Linked DNA regions of Homo sapiens. The protein of the gene in region 1 purifies or fractionates together with the protein of each later gene. This does not show direct contact. Each region holds a gene or a part of one and is shown on either strand. Other genes may lie near its edges.

Region 1 (3,588 bases):
GCACAAACAGGTAGCTGTCTTCACCTGGAAATCAGCCCCTTCCTACCTCAAACCCCCTTCCCTGGCTAGCTAACTTCTAACTAATTCTTCTGACAATCAGCTTAAATACCCCTCTCTCAGAAAAGTTTTGTCTGACCTAGGCCCTTACTTCAAGCAGCTGGGTTTCTTGCCTTGTTGCTCCCCAGCTCAGTGCCTGCCTGGTGCCCCTCCATGGCAGGGATGAGAACCAGCTTGCCACTAGCCCAGCATCTGGACTCAGGCCTAGTATACACATGCTCAGTCAATGATCACTGAATGAATGAATGAAATGGCCATGATTATCTAAGCCAGGTGGTCTAGGGAGTCAGGCCATGGTCACTAGGGGCAGGAGAAGCCTAGTGACCACTGTGTATGGTCTGAGAGTGTGCCCTTGCTAGGAACACTCTGCACCTGTCCCACTGCCATGCTCCAGCTGTTCCTAGAATGAAGCATGCCAGGTGTGAAGGACCGCCAGAGAGCAAAACAAAGGCTGGGCATCCAAAATAACAAGGAAGCCACATGGAAACCAAGACGTGGGGAAGACTGACCTGAAGGCTGGGCTGCCCAGAGGCCTGAAGGGCATGCTGTAGGGCTTGGCTGAAGAGATCATTGGTGATGGGCGTCCCTGACTGGACACCAGAGGACATTGGTGAGGTCCCTGAGGAATGACCCTAGAGACAAATTAGTGGTCAGTGCCACCCTCAGCGCCATCTCAATCTTATAGCAGATGCTCGCTGTTGTCATATCACCTCACAGCACTCCTGAGGTACCCAACTTCTGCCTCCCAACAAAGACCTGCCATAAGACAACCAAACAAAGGTAACTAGAAGCTCTCTATGTGGGCAGGAAAGGTTCCATTCTCTTCTGCACTGAGCCCCTTGTCCCAGCCTAGGACCCCAGCACTGCAGCACTGGGAGAGATGGCCTTGAAAGCTGAAGTGACTTGTCACCCAGAAATGCTTAAGCTGGTGATGTCTGCTCCCTGTCAGGGATGAGGAAGGGCATATTGTGTGCAGGAAGAGTCTTCTGAACTAATAGGGGGGACTACACGGGACCATGTTAAAATCTAGACTTCTGAGTCCTCAAGGCAAGTGAAGGGGAGGTCACTCAAGCTGCAGTAAGAAATCCCCACCAGGACTCCAGGGTTCAGCTTAAACTAGATCTAGCACCAGGGTCAGCAAAGGCAAATCTACTCTACTGCTGGGGAGCTTGTTCCTTGGGGGCCCAGCCTTGATCTTCCCGGCCCCGTCTTCATACCTGGGTGCCAGGAGTCGGTGTGTGAGAGCTGCTCTCCGGAGTGCTGGCCAGGGCCAAGGCGGTGGCCAGCTCACTCTGGGTGATGGGCCGGGGCCCAGCAGCTCCACTGTACCCCAGGGAGGCTGGGCGGGAGCTGGGAGTACTGCTAGAGGGTGTGGACCTGGTGTTCTGGAGAAAGAAGACACTCAGAATCAGGGAAGCAGTACTGTGAAACTCCCAGATGAACTCCACCCACCTCCAGCAATAGTTCTTGGGGAAACTCTTAAGTTCCCAGGTTCAGAAAGGAATCCAAAAGCAGAAATAGTATGACATGGTCTTGGCCCCCCAATGGCGTATGTCCATCTCCCAGCCTTGGGAGTGCCAGGTCCCAGGATGCAGCTCATTCCCAGCACCATCTCCCCCACATGTCAGCATGTCAGGCAGGCAGGCAGGCCACTTACTGGGTGAAAGTCATCCTCATCATCTGAGAGCCCTTCAAACAGGAAGCCACCTGGAGGAGGACGAACAGATTTCAGGAGGAAGAACAGAAAGGCACAGGCGCAGCTCCAGAATCTCAGCTCAAGTTACTCTCCAAATTCATATTTTCATCTCTCCCCTCGGAAAATTACAGGACAGATGCACTTCCTGACTCAAACCGAGAGTTCCCAAGGAACGCCCTCTGCCAACGCTATACATAGCTGCTGAGTAAAGCAAATTCCTGGGCCACTGCCGGCTCCTGAGGGGCCCACATTACACTTTTCAGGCGCTCACCTGGCATATCCCGGTATGAGCTGGAGGGCATGCTCCGGGAAGAGGAGTCAGTCCCAGGCATTGGGGCACTGCCTGCTACGGAGTGCAGAACCAGGACAATGGCATTGACGAGGGCTGGGTGAGCAGGCACCAACCTAGGATAGAAGCAGGAAGAAACCCAAGGGTGACTCCAAAAGAGCACCCTCAGCCATAACAGGAGTTCTGGGTGCCCCCTCACAACAATGCAGCCACCTGTGCCTGCTCTCAAATTCCTCAGTCTTTAGCATCTTCCACCAGGAAGCTTTATCCTCCTGCTGATCTGCCCCCAGCAACGGGTGCAAGGCCTTCAAATTCCTGGGGTCCGCTGCAGATTCTTCACCCTCTCCACAGGCAAGGCATGATGGGAAAGGTGCAGCCTGGGAGGCTCAGGGTTCTGGCCTGAGCACATGAGGAGTGTCTGGTCTAGGCACCACTACTACATCAGGCAACCCTGGACTGGTCCCTTCTCTTCCCAGGGTGGGGCTGTTTTCTTCACTTGCAAAATGAGGACATGTCCCTTTTAGCTTTGACACTTTACGGATCTGTACACCTGCTTCTCCTTTTGCCAGCTTAAAATCCTTGAAAAGCTCCCTAATTTCTACCACACGAAACCTAAACTGAGCCTGGCAGACAAGACCCTTTCCCTCAGAATCCTGCTTCCTCCCAGCACTCTTGACAAAAGCCCTGCTCTTGGGCTTTGCTCTTTCTCACCCCCTGACGTATCTAAGGGGTAGACTTGGTGACAGACTATGGATGGGCTCCCAGAGCAGACTGCAGGGTGACAATTAGGCTTCTGGCCTGAGCACGAGGAGAGAGAAGGTACCCTCTAATAGGACAGGTACACTTACGTATCAAGCATATTGGGATCAGCGAAGACAGAGAAGAGGTCCTTGTCCTGGAGAACCCCTGAAAAAGAGCAGAGCTCACCTCAAAGAAAGGAAATCAGCCAGATCCAGGAGGGAGAAGAGGCTTTGCGTCTCAGAGCAACCAGCTCAACAGGGACACAGGACAACAAGCCAATCTTCATGAGAAGTAGAGGAAGCAAAGCGCCAAGCAATACAATTCAGGTACTCCTCATCTTGGTCTAGTGAGGATGGTCCCCTGCTCTCCACCTCCCCTGCACTTTAGTCACATCACAGACTGGGTACCAAGACACCTGTCTCTTTCTCCCGTATCTCTGGGTTCTTCCCTTACTCAGGGTGTGCAGGACGCCTTCCCTGATTGCTGTGATGTGGGCTAACTGCTATCCTCATTTGGCATCCTCATACCCTTATTTACGATGTTAGTTAGGCCATTATCTCTCTGTGGGACTGAGAGCTCTTAAAGGGCTGGGGATATCAAACACACCTTGATTACTCTCCCTCTTCCCACAAGACCAGTCATTCTTCAAAAGATAGTCCAAGTCTCTTTAGAGGAATTGTCTTCTCCTGTTTTCTCCTTTTCCGACAACTCCTATTTCCTCAAATTCAGTCCTGCACTTACCAAGAGCAATAGGGTCACTGCTGAGGCCTGGGGTGGCCACAATGATCTGATCCAGAGACTCCTT
Region 2 (3,872 bases), on another chromosome or scaffold:
TACCAATAAGTTAGTACTTTCATACTAGTATTCTCATTTTACAGCAGAGGACCAAAAGGCACATACTGAGTAACTTGCCTGAGGTGACACAGCAAGTGGTACAGCCAACTGTACCTCTCAAAACATATCCTAATTCCATCTACTTCTCTACATCTCCACTCCTACTGCCCTGGTTCAAGCTGCAATTACTTAAAACTACTGCACAAGCCCCCTAACTGATGTCTCTGCTTTTCACTCTTGCCCACCCCACAGCATCAAAGTAACCTTTAAAAATCCTACAAGAAATATTTCTTGGCTAGGTGTGCTGGCTCATGCCTGTCATCCCAGCACTTTAGGAGGCTGAGGCAGGAGGATCACTTGAGGCTAGAAGTTGGAGACCAGCCTGGATAAAACATCAAGACCCCATCCCTACAAAAAAAAACTAAAATTAGCTGGGCGTGGTGGCATGCCCCCGTAGTCCCAGCTACTGGGGAGGCTTAGGGTGGAGGATCACTTGAGCCCAGGAGTTTGGGGCTGCAGTGAGCTATGATCATGCCACTGTACTCTATCCTGGGTGACAGAGCAAGACCTTGTTGAAAAAGGAAGGGAAGGAAGGAAGGGAAAGGAGTGGGGAAGGAAGGGAGGAAAGGAGGGAAGGAGAGGAAAGGAGAGGGAAGGGGGAAGGGAGGGAGGGAGGGAAGAAGGGAGGAAAGGAGGGAGGAAGGGAGGGAGGAAGGGAAGAAGGGAGGGAGGAAGGGAGAGAGGAAGGGAGGGAAAAAGAGAAAAGAGAGACAGAGACAAAGAAACAAAGATTTCTGTCCTGCTTGTAAATGTTTCCAAGTTTACCCTGAAAACCCCTAGCCTAACTCACTTGCCTAACTCACTCTCTTATCTCTTACCCAACTCACCCTTATCTCTTACCCATCACCTTAGCAATGCAGGCTTTTTTTCAGTACCCAAAACACATTCTTAAAGGTCTTTGCTCTAGCAGTTCCCTATAGAAAACATTCTCTTCATTCTCGAGTGCTCATTTTTACTCAGCTCTCAGCTTAAATGTCACCTTATTCAGAAAGGCCTTCAGTGACTAGTAAATTTAAAAGTAGCCACCCAGATCTCCTGAGCTCAGGAGTTCAAGACCACCCAGGGCAACATGATGAAACCCTGTCTCTACTAAAAATACAAAAAAATTAACCAGGTGTGGTGGGGCACACCTCTAGTCCCAGCTACTTGGGAGGCTGAGGCAGGAGAATCGCTTGAGCCCCAGAGGCGAAGGCTGCAGTGAGCCAAGATGGCGCCACTGCACTCCAGCTTGGGCTACAGAGTAAGACTGCATCTCAAAAACAAAACAAAACAACAACAAAAATGTAGCCACCCAGTGAAGTATTATCAAATACTTTATCCTATTTCAACTTTCTGCATAGCACTTACCATTACCTGGTTTTTAAAATGTATTTTTTGACAGTTTTATCCCACTAGAATGCACATACCATCACAGCAGGGCCTGACATCTAGTAAGTACACAGCAAATATTTATTAAATAAATAAATCAACATGCAAACACACTACGTTGGGGGATCACTGCTTTGCCAGTTCACCAAAAGAATATATTCAGTTCATTCAAAGATCTTTACTAAATGCCTACTGTGTGCACGGCATCAAAACAGCAAAAGTCTGGCAAAAATGTACCAGATTTCTCAGTTTCTTCCTGTATCTTGTTCTGCCAATATGCCAAGAACTCTTAATTTCACCTCTGTGATATAGTATTTTTAATACATTTACTACTCATTACCTTAATCTAGGAAGCTTGTATAATATGAAATTGTATCTAGCATGACTATATTGAAAATACAATAAACCACCACAGGAATACTTCACTAATAAATGATGGCTAGTAAATACTGTATAATACAGAGCAAGTACTAAAGCAATATACACACACAGTTTTTTTGTTTTTTTTTTTTTTTTGAGATGGAGTTTCGCTCTTGTTACCCAGGCTGGAGTGCAATGGTGCGATCTCAGCTCACTGCAACCTCCTCCTCCCAGGTTCAAGCGACTCTCCTGCCTCAGCCTCCTAAGTGGCTGGGATTACAGGCATGCACCACCATGCCCAGCTAATTTTCTATTTTTAGTAGAGACCAGGTTTCACCATGTTGGTCAGGCTGGTCTGGAACTCCTGACCTCAGGTGATCCACCCGCCTCGGCTTCCCAAGGTGCTGGGTAAAGCAGTATTTTATAACAATCACATTATAGAGGTAAACCACGAAATTAGGTAATTCTTCACAGCACACTAATATGCTATTTATAGATATTAAAACTGATGTCTTTGCAATTCTCTTAGCAAAAACATCCAATGTATATGTAGAATTTTAATGTCACTTATATACTAATCCAATCACATTTCAGCTTTTGCATTTAAAGTCTCATCTCAAATTTACTGAGTTTTGTTTTTAGTTGTTCAAGGCAAACAGTGTCAAGAGTTAGACTGCAGGATTAATTTGTATATCACATACTTTTTCTTGTCACCATTTCAGTGATGCAATAAAATACTGCACTGTATTTTTTTTATCTCAAAAGGTTTATTCCTAAATCTACCTTTCTTAATGTTTTTAAGCAACAGTAATATAAAACACTAATTGACTATAAAACTGAGCTTAAAAACTGTATTCCATTTCCCTCTAAATGTCCATCACACCATTAAACTTCAGAATTTTTTTTTTTTTTTTTTGAGACGGAGTCTCGCTTTGTCGCCCAGGCTGGAGTGCAATGGAGTGATCTCAGCTCACTGCAACCTCTGCCTCCTGGGTTCAAGCGATTCTCCTGCCTCAGCCTCCCAAGTAGCTGGGACTACAGGTGCATGCCACCACGTCCGTCTAATTTTTTGTATTTTTTTTAGTAGAGACGGGGTTTCACCGTGTTAACCAGGATGGTCTCGATCTCCTGACCTTGTGATCCGCCCACCTCGGCCTCCCAAAGTGCTGGGATTACAGGCATGAGCCACCACACCCAGCCTAAACTTCAGAATTTTTAAGAATTTCAGAGAAGCAGTGCTCTATCACACATCTCAAAATGCTTTAATATGTAGGCTACTTAAAAGTCTCCCACAATTTTTACAGTAAAAAACAAAAAAAGCACATAATGAAGAAAATCTCCTAGCAATGGTCTCCCTACCCCACACATACCACCTTCTCATTTTGTTTCTATATTGTTTGAATATTTTATAAGAAGGCTTGCATTACAATTGTAGAAACAAAAAGATCTTTGCAAAGATTAACACTAAAGGCAGTGGTCATGTAATGTATCACAGTAATAGTCAAGTAAATGGTACAAAATGCCTAATAAGTCTAAGAAAGTTTTGTTAAAACTAGGGCAAATAAAAACACCTTAAAACAAATTATCTTGCTCTTTCCATTTTGTATATCCCCCTACTCTATAGCCAATGAGCTTTGACTAAGTCAATAAGGCTCCCAGAAGCCCCAGACCACGTTCTACAGGTCCCTGTACTCCTCCAGTCCTGCCAGCAAAGCTCACTAAACATTTACTTGTTCAACAAATGAATCATTCCCATGATTCCACTTATCTCACAGTCCTTTCTTCCATTTTTGCTCATGCTCATCTCAAGCTCACAAGAGTTGCTATACTGGCTACGTAAGTTACTTAATTTCCTTGGTTCCTTCTAGGTAAAAATTAAACAAGGACAAATCTGTGACCAGACCAAAAACAGGTCTCAATAAGATCCTATCTTATTTTAGATCTATTTCTAATATCCTTGGTTACCTCGTTCTCACAACAACTTAGAAACAGGACACTTAGCGTTGCCCTAGAAAACATAATTTTCATTGTTTATTTTCTTACTGGAATTCTAAGGTGTCGTATCAAAAACACATACTAATTAA

Evidence for each region.
Region 2: the proteins of UBL7 (region 1) and RAD23B purify together in Homo sapiens (affinity purification with mass spectrometry; 2 studies listed by BioGRID and IntAct, with this or other methods). This does not show direct contact.

The regions. Positions count from the first base shown.
Region 1 is NC_000015.10:74,447,912-74,451,499, forward strand, and holds part of UBL7 (ubiquitin-like protein 7), read right to left. Parts: coding exon 3,525-3,588; intron 2,949-3,524; coding exon 2,891-2,948; intron 2,159-2,890; coding exon 2,025-2,158; intron 1,765-2,024; coding exon 1,715-1,764; intron 1,443-1,714; coding exon 1,275-1,442; intron 690-1,274; coding exon 567-689; intron 1-566.
Region 2 is NC_000009.12:107,285,907-107,289,778, reverse strand, and holds part of RAD23B (UV excision repair protein RAD23 homolog B), read right to left. Parts: intron 1-3,872. UniProt on the Homo sapiens protein: Multiubiquitin chain receptor involved in modulation of proteasomal degradation. Binds to polyubiquitin chains.